Homo sapiens: one gene and its partner. The main gene of each other region encodes a partner of the protein of the gene in region 2 in a complex. Each region holds a gene or a part of one and is shown on either strand. Other genes may lie near its edges.

Evidence for each region.
Region 1: the proteins of CARM1 (region 2) and H3-3A are in contact, whole or in part, in a crystal structure (PDB 5DWQ), measured with the Homo sapiens proteins. Residues at the interface, in NP_954592.1 of Homo sapiens: Gln148, Tyr149, Phe152, Tyr153, Gln158, Asn161, Met162, Asp165, Glu257, Pro258, Met259, Gly260, Tyr261, Glu266, Val340, Leu412, Thr413, His414, Trp415, Tyr416, Ser447, Lys470, Pro472, Phe474; in NP_001365972.1 of Homo sapiens: Gly14, Lys15, Ala16, Pro17, Arg18, Lys19, Gln20, Leu21.

The regions. Positions count from the first base shown.
Region 1 is NC_000001.11:226,057,935-226,065,715, reverse strand, and holds the start of H3-3A (histone H3.3), read right to left. Parts: upstream 3,001-7,781; 5' UTR 2,905-3,000; intron 1,388-2,904; 5' UTR 1,365-1,387; coding exon 1,237-1,364; intron 61-1,236; coding exon 1-60. UniProt on the Homo sapiens protein: Variant histone H3 which replaces conventional H3 in a wide range of nucleosomes in active genes. Constitutes the predominant form of histone H3 in non-dividing cells and is incorporated into chromatin independently of DNA synthesis.
Region 2 is NC_000019.10:10,866,656-10,874,586, forward strand, and holds the start of CARM1 (histone-arginine methyltransferase CARM1), read left to right. Parts: upstream 1-4,897; 5' UTR 4,898-5,047; coding exon 5,048-5,267; intron 5,268-5,773; exon of another isoform or gene 5,774-5,822; coding exon of another isoform or gene 5,823-5,937; intron 5,938-7,931. Other genes in the region: C19orf38 (protein HIDE1 precursor), read left to right, coding at 2,563-2,712. UniProt on the Homo sapiens protein: Methylates (mono- and asymmetric dimethylation) the guanidino nitrogens of arginyl residues in several proteins involved in DNA packaging, transcription regulation, pre-mRNA splicing, and mRNA stability.

The sequences.
Region 1 (7,781 bases), on a different chromosome or scaffold from region 2:
ATCAGAAGTTCAGTGGACTTCTGATAACGTCTAATTTCACGGAGCGCCACAGTACCAGGCCTTTAAAAAATTAATAAAGAAACTGTTACCAAAAACATAACTAGCACAAAAAGGTAAGTGGGCAGCTTCAAAGAAATGCAGTAATCTTTCAAAAAATAAGCCACCCAACAATTCTTCAGCTTCAGTATCAAATTTCACTGATCAACTTAAGATGTGAACATTCAAATCTAGTAACAATACCTTTAAAGCAAAAAGCATGAAATTAAAATGCATTCTTAGCAAGAAATTCATCAAAGCCCTATTTATTTTCATTTTAAAAAGTTATTCATGTATATAAACCTTGGGAAGGTATTAGCTGTCAGGCTAATGAAGAAGTTGGCTCCCCTCAATTTAGCACCACTCTCCTTCCCTACACCCTCTATTATCTTAAGAGCCCTTAAAGATGACCAACACAACCCAATGAACTTCATTTAAAAATCTGCTTGTGGCATTCAAGTTCTATTTCCCAGAATACCTCTACCCTGACTACAGTTCACCCCTCATCAACTATTAAATTTGAATACACCCGATTGTGCAGTGTTCCTTCCACGTGGAAAAGTTTTTTTTACTAAGTAATTGTCAGCAAGAAATTTACCTCTCATTCTGACTTATTTCTTCCACTGTATGAGCTTTTATTTTAGGTTAATCGTAATATTTGCGGAGGCTAAGTCTAGGCAACTTCTGCCCTCTAATGGCAGATGCCCTTAACAACACAGTGGCTCAGGTAGTTCACAATCAAAAGAGCTAATACAGAAGGAAATAAGCTAATCAAGTAAATGAGGGGGTAGGAACTTTATAAAACACCCAATCTCGATTATATTATTATTTTGCCAAAAACTAGGAAAGATAACCTCAAAAGTGTATTCAAGAAAGCAACACTTAACTATTTTTAAAGAATTACTAATAGTTAACTAAAATGTCAATATATCCCATTAACATTATCAGTGATATACGAGGTCTCCTTAGACCTCCAGGTAAGATTATGGCTTCAAAGTTAAACGTTTTCAATAAAACCTAATACTTAACTTTATATATAAATGATCATACAGTACATTTATTTAAGCAGTAGTTAAGTGTTCAAATGAAAAAAAAAAGTTTCTCTAAAGCAAAAAGTTTTCCTGTTATCCATCTTTTTGTTAAATTATGTGGATACATACAAGAGAGACTTTGTCCCATTTTTTTCCTGTTTTTTAATACCTGTAACGATGAGGTTTCTTCACCCCTCCAGTAGAGGGCGCACTCTTGCGAGCGGCTTTTGTAGCCAGTTGCTTCCTGGGTGCTTTACCACCGGTCGATTTGCGGGCAGTCTGCTTTGTACGAGCCATGGTACAGAGACCTCCTTACTTACCTACCAGCATTGAAAAATCAAAAATCACCATATGCAACTACCAAACATACAACTTTTCCTGCCACGATCACCCCCTCCCCAAATCTGGAAATTATGATCAGTATAAAAAATAATGTTCGTATTGTTATATAATTTGAAAGGGTGAAGATTACGTCTACCCAAAATCTCTTCTTGAAACAAACTAGAGTACTAGAAAATTGTTAGCAGTATCAATCACCTCTCAAAATGCCAATTCTGAGCGACAAACGGCAAAACAAAAATACCTCGAACGGCCTTTGATCCAATTTATTTAATTAAAGCAGTAATTAGAAATGTCTGTAAACATTCCATCCACAAACAAGTCAAAAGAAAAAAGGCACAAACCACTGGAAGGTCGAGTCAAATTACAGCAAAAAAAAGGTCTTACTCCCCCCCACTTTGGCTGCCCCCCCTTCGTCTGACTGTTGATGGATTGCTGTAAATATCTGAAAATATTCTTGGTTTTGCATCTTTACAGTTATGTTGACAAAAAGGCGTCTCGAAAAAACAAGAGAGGAACAACAGCTACCACCAGCGAGCATTCTACAAAGCCCCGTCCTCGCGTCCAGTCCTCACAGGCTTCGCAGTGAAATAAAAAGTGCCCCGCACCCAGGCTTTAATTAACGCACGACATCCGCCGACCGGTCCACCCCAAGCACCACATAAACTTTTGGTTTTGCCTCCTTCGGGTCCCTCGGCACAGGGTCCCCCAACCTGCCCGCCTCGCTCCCAGCGCCTCGAGCAGGAACCAACTCGGCTCCCCGACCAGAACAAAATGGAAACAATCGCAAAACGTATCCGATTCCGTTCCAAAGAGACAAAACACCAAATCGCTCGAAAATACCCCTATCCCCTGCCACGTGCCGCCCTCCAAAATGCAAAAGTTTTTTTTGCATTTCAAATGCATCAAGTTTCCGCCTCTCCAAAAAAGGGAAAAAAACGTCCCTCTTTTAAAAATTCTTGCTTTTTTGAAATGGGGAAGAGAGAAACGGGGGAAAAAATATGGTCGGTGACCAGAGAAGAGAGACAAGATGGTGAAGCTTAGCAACAACTGTGGGGAGGCAGCAAAAAGCGAGTTACCCCAGGGTGCGAAGCGGCGGCGATTTCCACCCCTTTCCCGCTCGAAAACTGGGGGCTGGGGCCCGGGGGCGGTAGTTAAGAGGCCCGCGCGGGTCATGGTGAAGGTTTGGGGTCCGGGGAAGGGGCGGCGGGCGGGATTTCACCGAAGAAAGAGGAGCCAGGGGCGCGGGGAGGAGGAGGGAGAGCAGGCTCGGCGCCGCGGCGGTTGCTGCTGTTGGGCTGAGGCGGCGAGAGACGGGGGAGCCGCCGCCGCCAGAGGGAACAGGGAAACTCGCTCCTCACCTCCATTTCTGGGCCAAAAAGTTTGTGGGCTAAGCCGGAGGGGCTATGGGTCCCCTCCCGGCACCGCCAGGGCCCGGCTCGGGGCTGACGGCAAGCGGGGCTCGGTTCCGGGGAAGCGGGCAGACGGGGAAACTTACCCCCCTTCTCCTTCGGCTGGAGCTCGGCGAGCGAGAGGCGGCGCTGGCGTTGGAGAGCGACGGCGGCGCGGCGGCGGCTGCGAACACAATTGAAAGATGGCTGACACCGAGGCTATCCCCCAACACACGCCGCCCCGCCCCCGCGCCGCGCGCCAGCCAATCACACACAATGGAGGGAAGGCTCGGCCCCGCCCCCATAGCTCCTCTCGCGCCCCGCCCCCGCCCTTCCCCCCGCGCGCCCGTTCGCTGGCGCGCGCTCGCCCCTCCCCCGCGCGCCGCCCGCTCCCTCCTCCAGGCCGCCTCGCGCCGTGTGTGTACAAACACAAAAGACACGCTGAGGGGCCGCCGGCTCCCGCCGAGACTGCCGCCCGCACCCGGCCAGCCCCCGCCCCCGGCCCTGCACTCCCATCCCGCTCCGTGTGCGCACGGCGTCGAACCCCCGAAGCCCGGGTTTGGGGCGCCCGGAGGGAAGTGGGGGGAGGGGAAGGCGGGCGGAGGCGCGGCGGGTGAACGCCCGGCCTGCGGGCGTCTCGGGCCGCGGCGGGGAGGGGAGGGAGGGGCTGCCCCCGCGCGGGCCCCGGCGCGCGCCCCCGAGGAGACCCGGGCGGCAGTGGGGGAGGAGGACGCGGTCGGCCGGGTCGCCGCGCCCCATTGGAAAACGCTCCCCAGCAGGAAGCTGGCAAATAGGAATCCAGCGTCCCGCGCCCGCTGTCGGACCTGGCCGCTGCGGCAGCGGGAGGGGCGGACCGACGGCCTCCTTCCCGCCTGCGCGCTCGGCCAAGTGCGGCCGGGTCCTGCGGGACCGGCCCGAGTCCGCCGTAGACAACTTGATCCGCTAAGACTCCTGGGCCGGCCGCCTGCGTGCAGGGCAGCCCCTCGCCGGTGTTGGCCTCCGGGATCAGGGGACGGGGCTCGCTCTCCTCCCGGGCCCGGGCCCCCGACGCAAGATGGCTGTGTCGCGTCGGCCTCTAAACAATGTGTGGAGCGCGCAGCTCCTGCACCAGGGCCTGGTGGCTTGTCCTGCCCGCCCGTGGGGGCCGTGTGATCTGTTTTCGGTAGGATTGCTTTGGAAAGGAATTGCCGAATATAGATAGTCAAATGTCCGCAGCTTCTGCATAGTTTAGAAGAGGCTGAAAACGGCAGAAAGAAGGCAAACGTGGTTTGGGAATTAGTACATATACCTGTTTTCCAATTCTCAGTAGCATAGGAAACGGACTTTTCATGGCCCAAGTTATCCTCACGACTTGTCAGTTGATTGGCTTTGGAACCTCTGAACCGTCCCTAGATGGTATTGACGCTTCACAACTGTGTGTAAAGGTTTTCAATGGAAGGGTCATGCAAATATCCCGTAGGGTAGTGAAGGAGGAAAATTTCATAAATGAAGGGCAGTAATTATTTGTAATCTGAAGATCTCACAAAGCGGCTTAGTGATAAACATTATCCCGAAACAGATACATGGAAATCAGATACGAGGGAAGAAATGGATTTGTCCAAGGTCACTTAAGTGAGGAAGAGACCTAGGAGAAACAAACAGACAAAAATCCAGGCCTCCCGTTTCATTATTATTTCATGAATGTTAAGTGTCCATGGTTGCTGTGCAGAACACATGCAATCTCTAATCCTATCCTAAAAGCACATATGCAATCAGCTTGGACCGAGCTGCCAGCAAAGAATTTCCTATAATTCAAGCCAAGATGAGTTATTTTGCTTGTTTTTTGTTTTGTTTTCAGGAAACCGAAATATTTATTGTTGGATTTATCCAGGAAGGCTGTTCTGCATTAGTTAAATGCATCATATCTTCAAGAAATGTTAAATGACATGGGTAATGTTTTCTTTGTATGCTGGATTTTTCAATAGCTTCTACTTCTTGGCTTTAAAAAATATTTCTAACCAAGGGTCAGACCATTTTAGGTAGAGTAATTATGATCTTAGATGATTTGAACTAACTCAGCTGTCTGTCCATTTGTGAAATGGGAATAATAATATTTATCTCTATGAAGTTAGGCCACAAATTCTTTCTAGTAGGTTCAAGTATTTAAGCACCTGGAGAGGTGACTGGTTACCCTCCTAGTGGCTTCAGGAAGTTTTCTCACTGAATGAATATTTATTGAGTGCCAACTCTGCTCAGCACAATTCAGGGGTGCTGGGAATGCAGCAGTGAATAACACAAGCAGTGTTCCTGCCCTCATGGGGCTTATGATCTCTGGAAGCACTGCTTTGCACAGGGAAGTAGCACCAGGAGGGGGTAAAGAAAGAGGGACTTTGGAGCCCCAAGATTGGCAAAAACTATAGCTAATGAGAGAGGTGAACTGTAGAGTCTAGATAATGGGGAAGGAGAGGTGCCAGAGCAAGAAGGGATTCTCACAGGGCCCTACGGGTCAGTCCTGAATTGGCTTTACTAGAACTCAGGCCCAGCACAATGGCTCACATCTGTAATCCCAGCGCTTTGGGAGGCCGAGGTGGGTGGATCACTTGAGATCAGGAGTTTGAGACCAACCTGGCCAACCTGGAGAAACCCTGTCTCTACTAAAAATAAAAATTAGCCGTCATGGTGGCACACGTCTGTAATCCTAGCTACTTGGGAGGCTGAAGTGGGAGGATTGCTTGAATTTGGGAGGTGGAGGTTGCAGTGAGCCGAAATTTTGCCACTGCACTTCAGCCTGGGCAACAGTAAGACTCCATCTCAGAAAAAAAAAAAAATAGAATTCTTGGGCTAATAATGGCCTCAACATTTGCAGTTAAAAAAGAAATGGGGAGGATGGGAGCAAAAGGTTTTAAGTTAAAATATTTTCCTTAGAATAGAGTACTTATGGCCATGAATTTAGATTTGTTTATAAGTAGAAAAGTAGAATGGAAAGGATTTTAAAAGCAACGCTATTCATATCTGCTTGGCTCCTGTCAATCAACTGCAAAGATTACTGCCTCATGGAGATGCTTCTGGTCACTGTAATGCTATCTCCATGCACACTTTATCACATTGATTTCACATCACCTTTTTATCACATTGATTTACATCTATCATTTGTTCACTTGCTTATTGTCCAGTTCCTCCCCAAAGAATATAACCTCTGAGGTAATGGTGGTCTTGTCTGTTTTTTCTCCTGTCCCTGATCATTTGCTGTACCTTTTTATTAGGTGATCTCATCCAGTTACATGGAAATTATCATGTAGAAAAATAGAATAAAACAATGAACCCCTTGTACCCATCTTTAGAAATTACTGACTCATGACCAATATTGGGTTCCCTCTATACTCTACTCACTTCTACCTCACCGATTTGAATTATTTTGAAGCAAATCCCAGCCTGCATTATTTCATCTGTAGATAATTTAGTATGTATCATAGGAGTCAAATAGATGATTGATGTGCCCCTTAAATCTCTTATAATCTACAGATTCTTTCTCTGTATTTGTACTTTGTTGAAAAATATGGATTGGCCAGGCGTGGTGGCTCACACTTGTAATCCCAGCACTTTGGGAGGCTGAGGTGGGCTGATCACTTGAGGTCAGGAGTTGGAGACCACCTTGGCCAACATGGCGAAACCCTATCTCTACTAAAAATACAAAAATTAGCCAGGCGTGGTGGCTCACGCCTGTAGTCCCAGCTACTTGGGAGGCTGAGGTAGGAGAATTGCTTGAACCCCAGGAGGCGGAGGTTGCAGTGAGCAGAGACTGCGCCACTGCACTCCAGTCTGGGCGACAGAGCAAGACTCCGTCTCAAACAAAAGAAAAATATGGATCATTTATCCTGAGGCTTTGGATCCACACTGTCTAAAACTGTCCTTTCCCTCAGTCTTGTCCAGTAAATAGCACTACCATTTACTCAACTCAAACCAAAAAGTACAGACAGCCTCCTTGAGCCTCTTTTTCTTTCACCCCGATAGCCAGTCTATTGGTCTTGCTCTGAAATGCTTATCAGAATGACCTACTCCTCTTCTCATCTCTTACCTGCCCTTCAACAGTAACTTTCTGTATGACCTTTCTCTTTCCACTCCTGCACCTCTGTATTTTATTTGCTACCAAGCAGACACAGATTAGATTATAGAATATAAATCAGATTAGGTTGCATTCTTGCTTAATCCATTCAGTGGCCTCCCACTGCTCTTGGTTAAATTCCACATGTGTGGGCCCTGGCATTACCCCTCTTTCCCCTCCGCACTGTGCTGCAGACTAGCCACCCCTGGTCCATCAAGTCCTCCTCTGCCTTAGGATCATTGCATCTGTTCTTTCTGAAGCTTGAATTCTCTTCCACCAGCTTTTGATAGGACTGTCTCACCATCTTCTAAGGCAAACTTTCTAACCTTTCCCATGTCATTTTCTTCTTAGAAAATGATCATATTTGGCCAGGTGCAGTGGCTCACACCTCTAATCCCTGCACTTTGGGAGGCCGAGGTTGGTGAATCACCTGAGGTCAGGAGTTCGAGACCAACCTGGCCAATATAATGAAACCCCGTCTCTACTAAAAATATAAAAAATTAGCCAGGCATGGTCGTGGGCACTTGTAATCCCAGCTACTTGGGAGGCCTGAGGCAGGAGAATCACTTGAACCCGGGAGGTGGAGGTTGCAGTGAGCTGAGATCACACCACTGCACTCCAGCCTGGGCAACAAGAGCGAAACTCCATGTCAAAAAAAAAAAGAAGAAAATGATCATATTTGTAAGTTGCACCGAGGATTAGTGGAGGGTATTTGGAGCCACTCATATGGAACTTGATTTTTAAATTTGGGCTTGGCATGGTAGCTCAAGCCTGTAATCCCAGCACTTTTTTATTTGTTTGTTTGTTTATTTTTTTTTTTTTTGAGACAAGAGTTTTGCTCTTGTTGCCCAGGCTGGAGTGCAGTGGCTCGATCTCGGCTCACTGCAACCTCTACCTCCCGAG
Region 2 (7,931 bases):
TTTTTTTTTTGGAGACGGAGTTTCGCAATTATCGTCCAGGCTGGAGTGCAGTGGTGCCATCTGCAGCCTCCACTTCTGGGGTTGAAGCGATTCTCCCACCTCAGCCTCCCAAGTAGCTGGGACTGTAGGTGCCTGATACCACACCTAGCTAATGTTTGTATTTTTAGTAGATACAGGGTTTCACCATGTTGGCCTGGCTCGTCTTGAACTCCTGACCTCAGGTGATCCACCCACCTCAACCTCCCAAAGTGTTGGGATTATAAGCATGAGCCACTGCACCCAGCCTAATTTTTGTATAATTTTTGTATATTTTTAGTAGAGACAAGGTTTCACCAAGTTGGCCAGGCTGGTCTCAGACTCCTGACCTCAAGTGATCTGCCCGCCTCGGCCTCCCAAAGTGCTGGGGTTACAGGCATGAGCCACCGTGCCCGGCCCAGAAATTTCTCATCCTCCCAAACTTGTCTCCGTGCAACACCCACTCCCCGTTGTCCCTCCCCCAGCCCCTGGCACCCACCATTCTCCTGTCTCTGTGGATTTGCCTCTTCTGGACATCTCATGGATATGAGATCACATGATATTTTTCCTTTTGTGACTGGCCTGTTTCGCTGAGCTTGATGTCCTCAAGGTTCATTCATGCCATACGTAGCCTGTGTCAGAATGTCCTTCATGGCAGGCACGGTAGCACATGCCTATAATGCCAGCACTTTGGGAGGCCAAGGCGGGCAGATCACCTGAGGTTGGGAATTCGAGACTAGCCTGACCAACACGGAGAAACCCCATCTCTACTAAAACTACAAAAAAAAAAAAAAAAAATTAGCCGGGCATGGTGGCACATGCCTGTAATACCAGCTACTCGGGAGGCTTAGGCAGGAGAATCACTTGAACCCAGGAGGCGGAGTTGCTGTGAGCTGAGATCACGCCATTGCATTCCAGCCTGGGCAACAAGAGCGAAACTCCATCTCAGAAAAAAAAAAGGAAGAACATTCTTTTTTTTTTTTTTTTTTTTTTTTTTTTTGAGACAGTGTCTCACTCTGTCGCCCAGACTGCAGTGCAGTGGTGTGATCTCGGCTCACTGCCACCTCTGCCTCCCAGCCTCCAGCGATTCTCCTGCCTCAGCTTCCCAAGTAGCTGGGATTACAGGCGCCTGCCACCATGCCCGGCTAATTTTTGTAGTTTTAGTAGAGATGGGGTTTCACCATGTTGGCCAGGCTGGTCTTGAACTCCTGACCTCAGGTGATCCGCCCGCCTCGACCTCCCAAAGTGCTGGGATTACAGGTGTGAGCCACCGTGCCCAGCCTGTTCTTCCTTTTTAAGGCTGAATCATATTGTGTTGTATGGATACACCAAGTTTTGTTGATCCATTCAATTGTTGATGGACACTTGGGTTGTTTCCACCTTTTGGCTGTTGTGCAGAACCGTGCCATGACCATGGGTATGCAAATTTCTTTTGGAGTCTCTGCTTTCACTTCTAGTTTCCTTTTGAAGCCTTATACTGCTTTGTCGTTGGCTGAAATGGTAAGGCAGCAGCTGACCTGTCTCTAGCTTTCCCCATTACCTTGCTGAGTGTCTGATATGCAACTTTGTAACACCCTTTCAGGTGGGATCGATTATTTTCTTTTTACGAACAAGGACACTGAGGCTGATAATGGGCCTAGGGTCACCCAGCTTGGGAGGGACAGGACTGTGGGTGGAACCCCCAGCCTGCTGTCAACTGAGTGGCTTTAGTTCTAGCAAATTCATCTCTCTTTAACTAGGATCAGGGTCAGGAGCCTCCAAGGCAGAGGAGGAGGTAGACTTTTGAGGAATGTTTTGCCCATGGGCAAATGGGAGGGGAGGAGGAGATAATACTATTTATTTTTTATTTATTTATTTTTTTGAGACCAAGTCTCACTTTGTTCCCCAGGCTGGAGAGGAGTGGCAGGATCTCAGCTCACTGCAACCTTCACCTCCTGGGTTCAGGTGATTCTCCTGCCTCAGCCTCCCGAGTAGCTGGGATTACAGGCGTGCACCACCACACCTAATTTTTGTATTTTTCTGAGAGGGTTTCACCATGTTGGCCAGGCTGGTCTCGAACTCCTGACCTGAGGTGATCCACCCACCTCGGTCTCCCAAAGTGCTGGGATTACAGGCGTGAGCCACTGGGCCCAACAGAGGAGATAATATGAATGGTTGTGTTCACTTAGCAAAGAAGAGCTTACGATGTGCCATTTGCTTTATCAGTTTTACTCTTTTAAGCCTCATAGCAGCCCTAGGAAGTGGTGGGTACTAGCATTCTGCCCGTTTTGCAGAAGGGGAAACTGAGGTATAGAGGGGTGAAGCCACACAACTGAGGTTACACTGCTATAAAGTGAAGGAACTGGTGTTTGAATCCATGCTCTCTGGTCCCCAGTTTAGCAGAGAGGAAGGCAGGAGAAGGGAAGACCAGGACAGGTGGGTGTGGGTGGGGGCGGGATGAGAGGAGACCTGCTGGGCTGGCAGAGTCTCAGGCTCAGAACATGGAGAAACCCTAGATCCTGAAACCCCAAATCACCCACTTCTGTGTTTCTTCTTACATGGACAAAGAAAACGATGCCAGAAGAAGACCCGGCCACCTTGGATGATCACTCAGGCACCACTGCCACCCCCAGCAACTCCAGGACCCGGAAGAGGCCCACTTCCACGTCCTCCTCGCCTGAGACCCCCGAATTCAGCACTTTCCGGGCCTGCCAGTGAGGCTGAGGACTGGGGGACCCCTCTGTCTCCAGGCATTCGGGGGCCTGAGGTCCCTCCAGCTACTTCTGGGGGGGCTCTGTCAGCCACTTTCTCAGGGAATTGGACAGAGGAAAGGAAGGGGAACCCTGGCCTTGGGATTTTCATCACAGAGGAGTGGGAGAGGGGACACAGGCATGGGCCTGGCACTATACAGACAACAGGAAGTTCCCCTCTCGACCTTCGGCTCCTCAGGACCACCAGAGAAGGAGATGTCAGGACCCCTTCTTGTCCCCCAGCTGGGCCATAAGACGTCCCAGGTCTCTGCACACCCGTGGAATTCCTCCCTTCCCCAGTGGGTTTTTGAGCATAGGGTGCCCTTGGGTGTGTTGTGTGTCTGCCTGCTGGCTTGCTTAAGTTATTAATTATAACACGGGTCAAGGTGTTCCCAGGCCTCTATGGAGTGGAATCCTTCAAGCTGGGGACCTCTGGATCCCATGGTTGGATGGCTGGGGGGTGGAGCGTGTCTGAATTCACCAAATTTGAAGCATCTCTCAAGGGCAGTCAGGGTGGTGTATGCGGAGCCTCCTGGGGGTGTGGGGAGTGCAGCAGTGCCATGCCAGGGTCTCTGCAACGGTACTTGCATTAGAGGGTTTAGGAGGTGGAATGACAGGGGCTACGGGTGAGGGACATGAAGGAGAATGAGGGCCCCTCGCAGTGGCTCACACCTATAATCCCAGCACTTTGGGAGGCCGAGGCAGGGGGTTGCTTGAGCCCAGGAGGTTGAGGCTGCAGTAAGCTATGATGGCACCACTGCACTCTAGCCTGGGCAACACAGTGAGACCCTGTCTCAAAAAACAAAAGGGGCCGGGCGCGGTGGCTCATGCCTGTAGGCCCAGCACTTTGGGATGCCGAGGCGGGCGGATCACCTGAAGTCAGGAGTTCAAGACCAGCCTGACCAACATGGTGAAACCTCGTCTCTACTAAAAATAAAAAATTAGCTGGGCGTGGTAGAGCATGCCTGTAGTCCCAGCTACTCGGGAGGCTGAGGCAGGAGAATCACTTGAACCCGGGAGGCGGAGGTTGCGGTGAGCTGAGATCGAGCCATTGCACTCCAGCCTGGGAGACAGAGCGAGACTCCGTCTCAAAGAAAAAAAAAAAAAAAAAAAAGGAATGAGGCGTAAATGAGGTCTAGGGAAGAGTTAAAGCTGGAGTGCTAGGAAGTGGCCCAAGCTCACTGGGTCGCCCAAAAGAGATGGGGCCACCCAAAATGAAGGGGGATGCAGAGAGAAGACGGGTTTGTGTGGCGGGAGAGGGGCCCTGCGCCGGGCCAGGCTGGACTCAGCATCGTTGGAGGAGGGGCTGAGAGAGGAGGGGGTCAAAGGATATCTTGTGCGAAAGGAGACAGTCAAACATTAAGGATTAAGAAGGCAATGTGGGCAGAGATGATGGGGAAGGGAGGAGGAGCGGTCGAATGTCGGGGAGGGGTCCTTTCAACCGGGCTCAGGTTGCTCCTGGAGGCCAGGGCTCATCGGAAATCGTCGGTGCGGGGGCGGTGGGGGGAAGGGTTGGGGGCGAGGCCCGGGCGCTGGCCACGCCCTTTCCCCCGCCCATTCCCCAGAGCGGGGCGGCTGACAAAGCGAGTCCGGGTGGGAGGGCGCGGGCAGGCACGGGGGCGGGGCCTCGTCGCGGCTGGGCCACGCCTCCCTGAGGGCTGCCTCACAAAGCCGGGCGGGCCCGGGGGGGTGGGGCCCAGTCTCAGGGGCGTGTCCAGGTCGGGGCAGGGAAGCCGCATCACGACGCGCGGCTGCTTGTGTGGGGCGGGGTACAGGGCGTGTCCACGCGGCCGAGCACCGCCCCCGCCGTCCCCGCACCGCCTCACTCGAAAGCAGCCGTTAATGAGGCGCCGGCCTGGGGGCGGGGCCCAGGCCTCCGAGGGGCGTGCCCGCGCGCCCGAGCACCGCCCCCGACGTACCCTCCCGCCCCGCAGTTCCCGGGCGGTGGAGCCACCTCACAAAGCGGCGACCGTTCTCGCGGGGCGGGGCGTAGCCGGTCCCGCCCCACGGGGTGCCCTCTCGTTCGCTCGCTAGCTCCCCGCGCCCAGGACGGCCGGCAGAGGGCGCTGCGCCACGGGGCCGGGCCGCGGCGACGGTGGCGGCGGCGGCGGCGAGGCGGCGCGTGGCCGGCAGGCGGCGCTGCCCGGCTCGGCCTCGGCCTGCACGGCGGCTGCGGCGGCGGTAGCGGCAGCGGCGGCGGCGGCGGCGGCGGCGGCGGCGGCGGCGGCGGCGGCGGCGGCAGCGGCGGCGGCCTGGGCCCGGGCGCAGCGGCGGCGGCGGCGGGGCCTGGAGCCGGATCTAAGATGGCAGCGGCGGCGGCGGCGGTGGGGCCGGGCGCGGGCGGCGCGGGGTCGGCGGTCCCGGGCGGCGCGGGGCCCTGCGCTACCGTGTCGGTGTTCCCCGGCGCCCGCCTCCTCACCATCGGCGACGCGAACGGCGAGATCCAGCGGCACGCGGAGCAGCAGGCGCTGCGCCTCGAGGTGCGCGCCGGCCCGGACTCGGCGGGCATCGCCCTCTACAGCCGTGAGTACGGGGCCCCGGGGCAGGCGCAGGGCCGGGGCTGCTCACGAGGCCGGCCCGGGGCGGGGGCCGGCGGGGAGGGGCCCTGAGCGCGGGGGCCTGGCGTGGGGTCCCCGGGACTGAGCCGGTGGCCTGCAGGGAGCGACCGTGGAGGGCCGGTGCCAGGGGACAGACAGAGAAAAGAGGGCGTGCGTGGTGGCCGGAGGGGCAAGGTGCCCAGAGTGAGCAAGGGAGCGCGAAATGGGGAGTGAAGGGCCTGAGATTTGGGAGGGGTGGGTGAGCAGGAAGTGGGGGGCTCTGAGTGGAAGGGGAATTTGGAGGACGCCAGGCGTGGTGGGCTTAAGCGTGGGGGAGGGAGGTCCGGGGTGCGGGAGAGGTGGGCGTCTCGGGGGCGGGCGTGGCCGCCTCTGCAGGGAGGAGGGTGGGGCGTGGGCGGCCCGGGATCCCTCTGGGGACCCCCTGGATAGCTCAGGACGGTTGGAAAGTGTTTGCTGGTCTGGGGCGCCCGCGAGTACCGAGTTCCACCGCTGTGCGAGGTGTGGCGTTCAGGACCCCCGAATGGGAAACTTCAGGATCTGGGGAGAGGGCCCATGCGGGGACGGTGGGAGCCGCAGGGTGAGCTCCTCGTGGAAACGTGGACGGGACGGGCCCCTTCCTGATGCCGGGCTTCGAAGTAAGAGCTAACAGCCTCCTCCCATCTTCTTTTGGGGGATGTGAGAAGCTGGTTACATTTTCCGAAGCTGCTTTCAAAACTGACATTTCACTGGGGGGAAAAGAAAATCACAAATGCGTTTGCCAGCACCCCCCACCCCCGCTCCCAGTCTTTGTAGTTCATTCTTCTTCTTGTTACTCCTTCTTATCTCTTCTCTTTGATTCCTTGTTCACATTTTGCTACTCTGTGTCATTTGGCTTTGTCTTTCAGGGCTTCTTGCACTGATGCCCTGGGGAACCCCTCAGGAGGCCTCTAGCTAGCTTGGGTCCTGTGTGAATTTTTTGCCACTTTGGAAACGGCCCGATTAAAGGAAAGCCCGAGGAGCAGTCCGTTCACACTGGGTTTTCCCTGCACCTCGACTTTGAAAACGTGGACTAAAGGAGTTGTGTCTGCTGTCCGAGGGTGCCGTCTCTTTTTGCTGGTGCAGAGCCTGGGTCTTCTTGGACCAGATGAGAGGGGAAGGAGGGTATTTCAGCGGGGGTTTCAGAGTTCAAGGCAGACACTCAGCTCAACAGAACCCCAGATCATAAGCAAAACCTATTCACTGGGCAAGCATTGGTAGCCAACTTTGTCCTGAACAGAACAAAGCGGGGCAGCGTTTCCAAAACTAGGGTCCCAGGGCTTATCCTCAAAGGAGTTCCAGGAGAGTTGGCTATCATTTTTAAGTAAACCTTTAAAAAATTTTTTTAGGACCAGGCGGGGTAGCTCAGCACTTTGGGAGGCTAAGCACTTTGGGAGGATCACTTGAGGTCAGGAGTTCGAGACCAGCCTGGCCAACATGGTGAAACCCCGTCTCTACTAAAAATACAAAACAGCGGGGTGTGGTGACATGTGCCTGTCCCAGCTACTCGGGAGGCAGAGGCAGGAGAATCACTTGAACCTGGGAGGCAGAGGTTGCAATGAGCTGAGATCGTGCCATTGCACTCCAGCCGGGGAGACAGAGTGAGACTCCATCTCAAAAAAAAAATTTTTTTTAGAACAATTTTAGTTTAGTTTTTTTTTTTTTTTTTTTTTTTTTTTTTTTTTGAGACAGAGTCTTGCTCGGTCCCCCAGGCTGAAGTGCAGTGGCTCAATCTCGGCTCACTGCAAGCTCTGCCACCTGGGTTCACGCCATTCTCCTGCCTCAGCCTCCCGAGTAGCTGGGACTACAGGCGCCTGCCGCCATGCCCGGCTAATTTTTTGTGTTTTTAGTAGAGACGGGGTTTCACCATGTTAGCCAGGATGGTCTTGATCTCCTGACCTCGTGATCCACCCGCCTTGGCCTCCCAAAGTGCTGGGATTACAGGCATGAGCCACCCCGCCCGGCCAGAACAATTTTAGTCTTATAGATGTATTGGCAACATAGTGAGATGTTCCTACCATCTTATTCCTGGAGTAACATTTTGTGTTTGTATTTGTGTTTTTGTTTTTGTTTTGTTGATACTCTTGAAAGTATTACTTGTTATTAAGACAGCACTTCTCTTTGAGAGGTAATTGGTAACTGAAACATTTTTTATTATTAGAGACAAGGTTTCACTATGTCACTGTGTTGCCCAGGCTGGTCTCCAACTTCTGAGCTCAAGTGATCTTCCTGCCTCCCAGAATGCTGGGATTACAGGTGTGAGCCACCCCACCTGACCGGAAACATTCATAAAAAGGAGAAAGTCCACATTCCTCAGAGAGCCTCAGTCCCAGATTCCCAGATGATATATCCTTAGGGTTCTGAAATAATTTTTTTTTACACTTTTTTGTTTTTTTTCTTTCTTTTTTATTTTTTTTATTTTTATTTTTTATTTTTTCAGACAGGGCCTCACTCTGTTGCTCAGACTGGAGTGCAGTGGTACAGTCTCAGTCTCAGCTCACTGCAGCCTTCCATGGCTAAAGTGATCCTCATACCTCAGCCTCCCTAGTAGCTGGGACCACAGGCATGTGCCACACCCAGCTAATCTTTCATATTTTTTGTAGAGAAAGGGTTT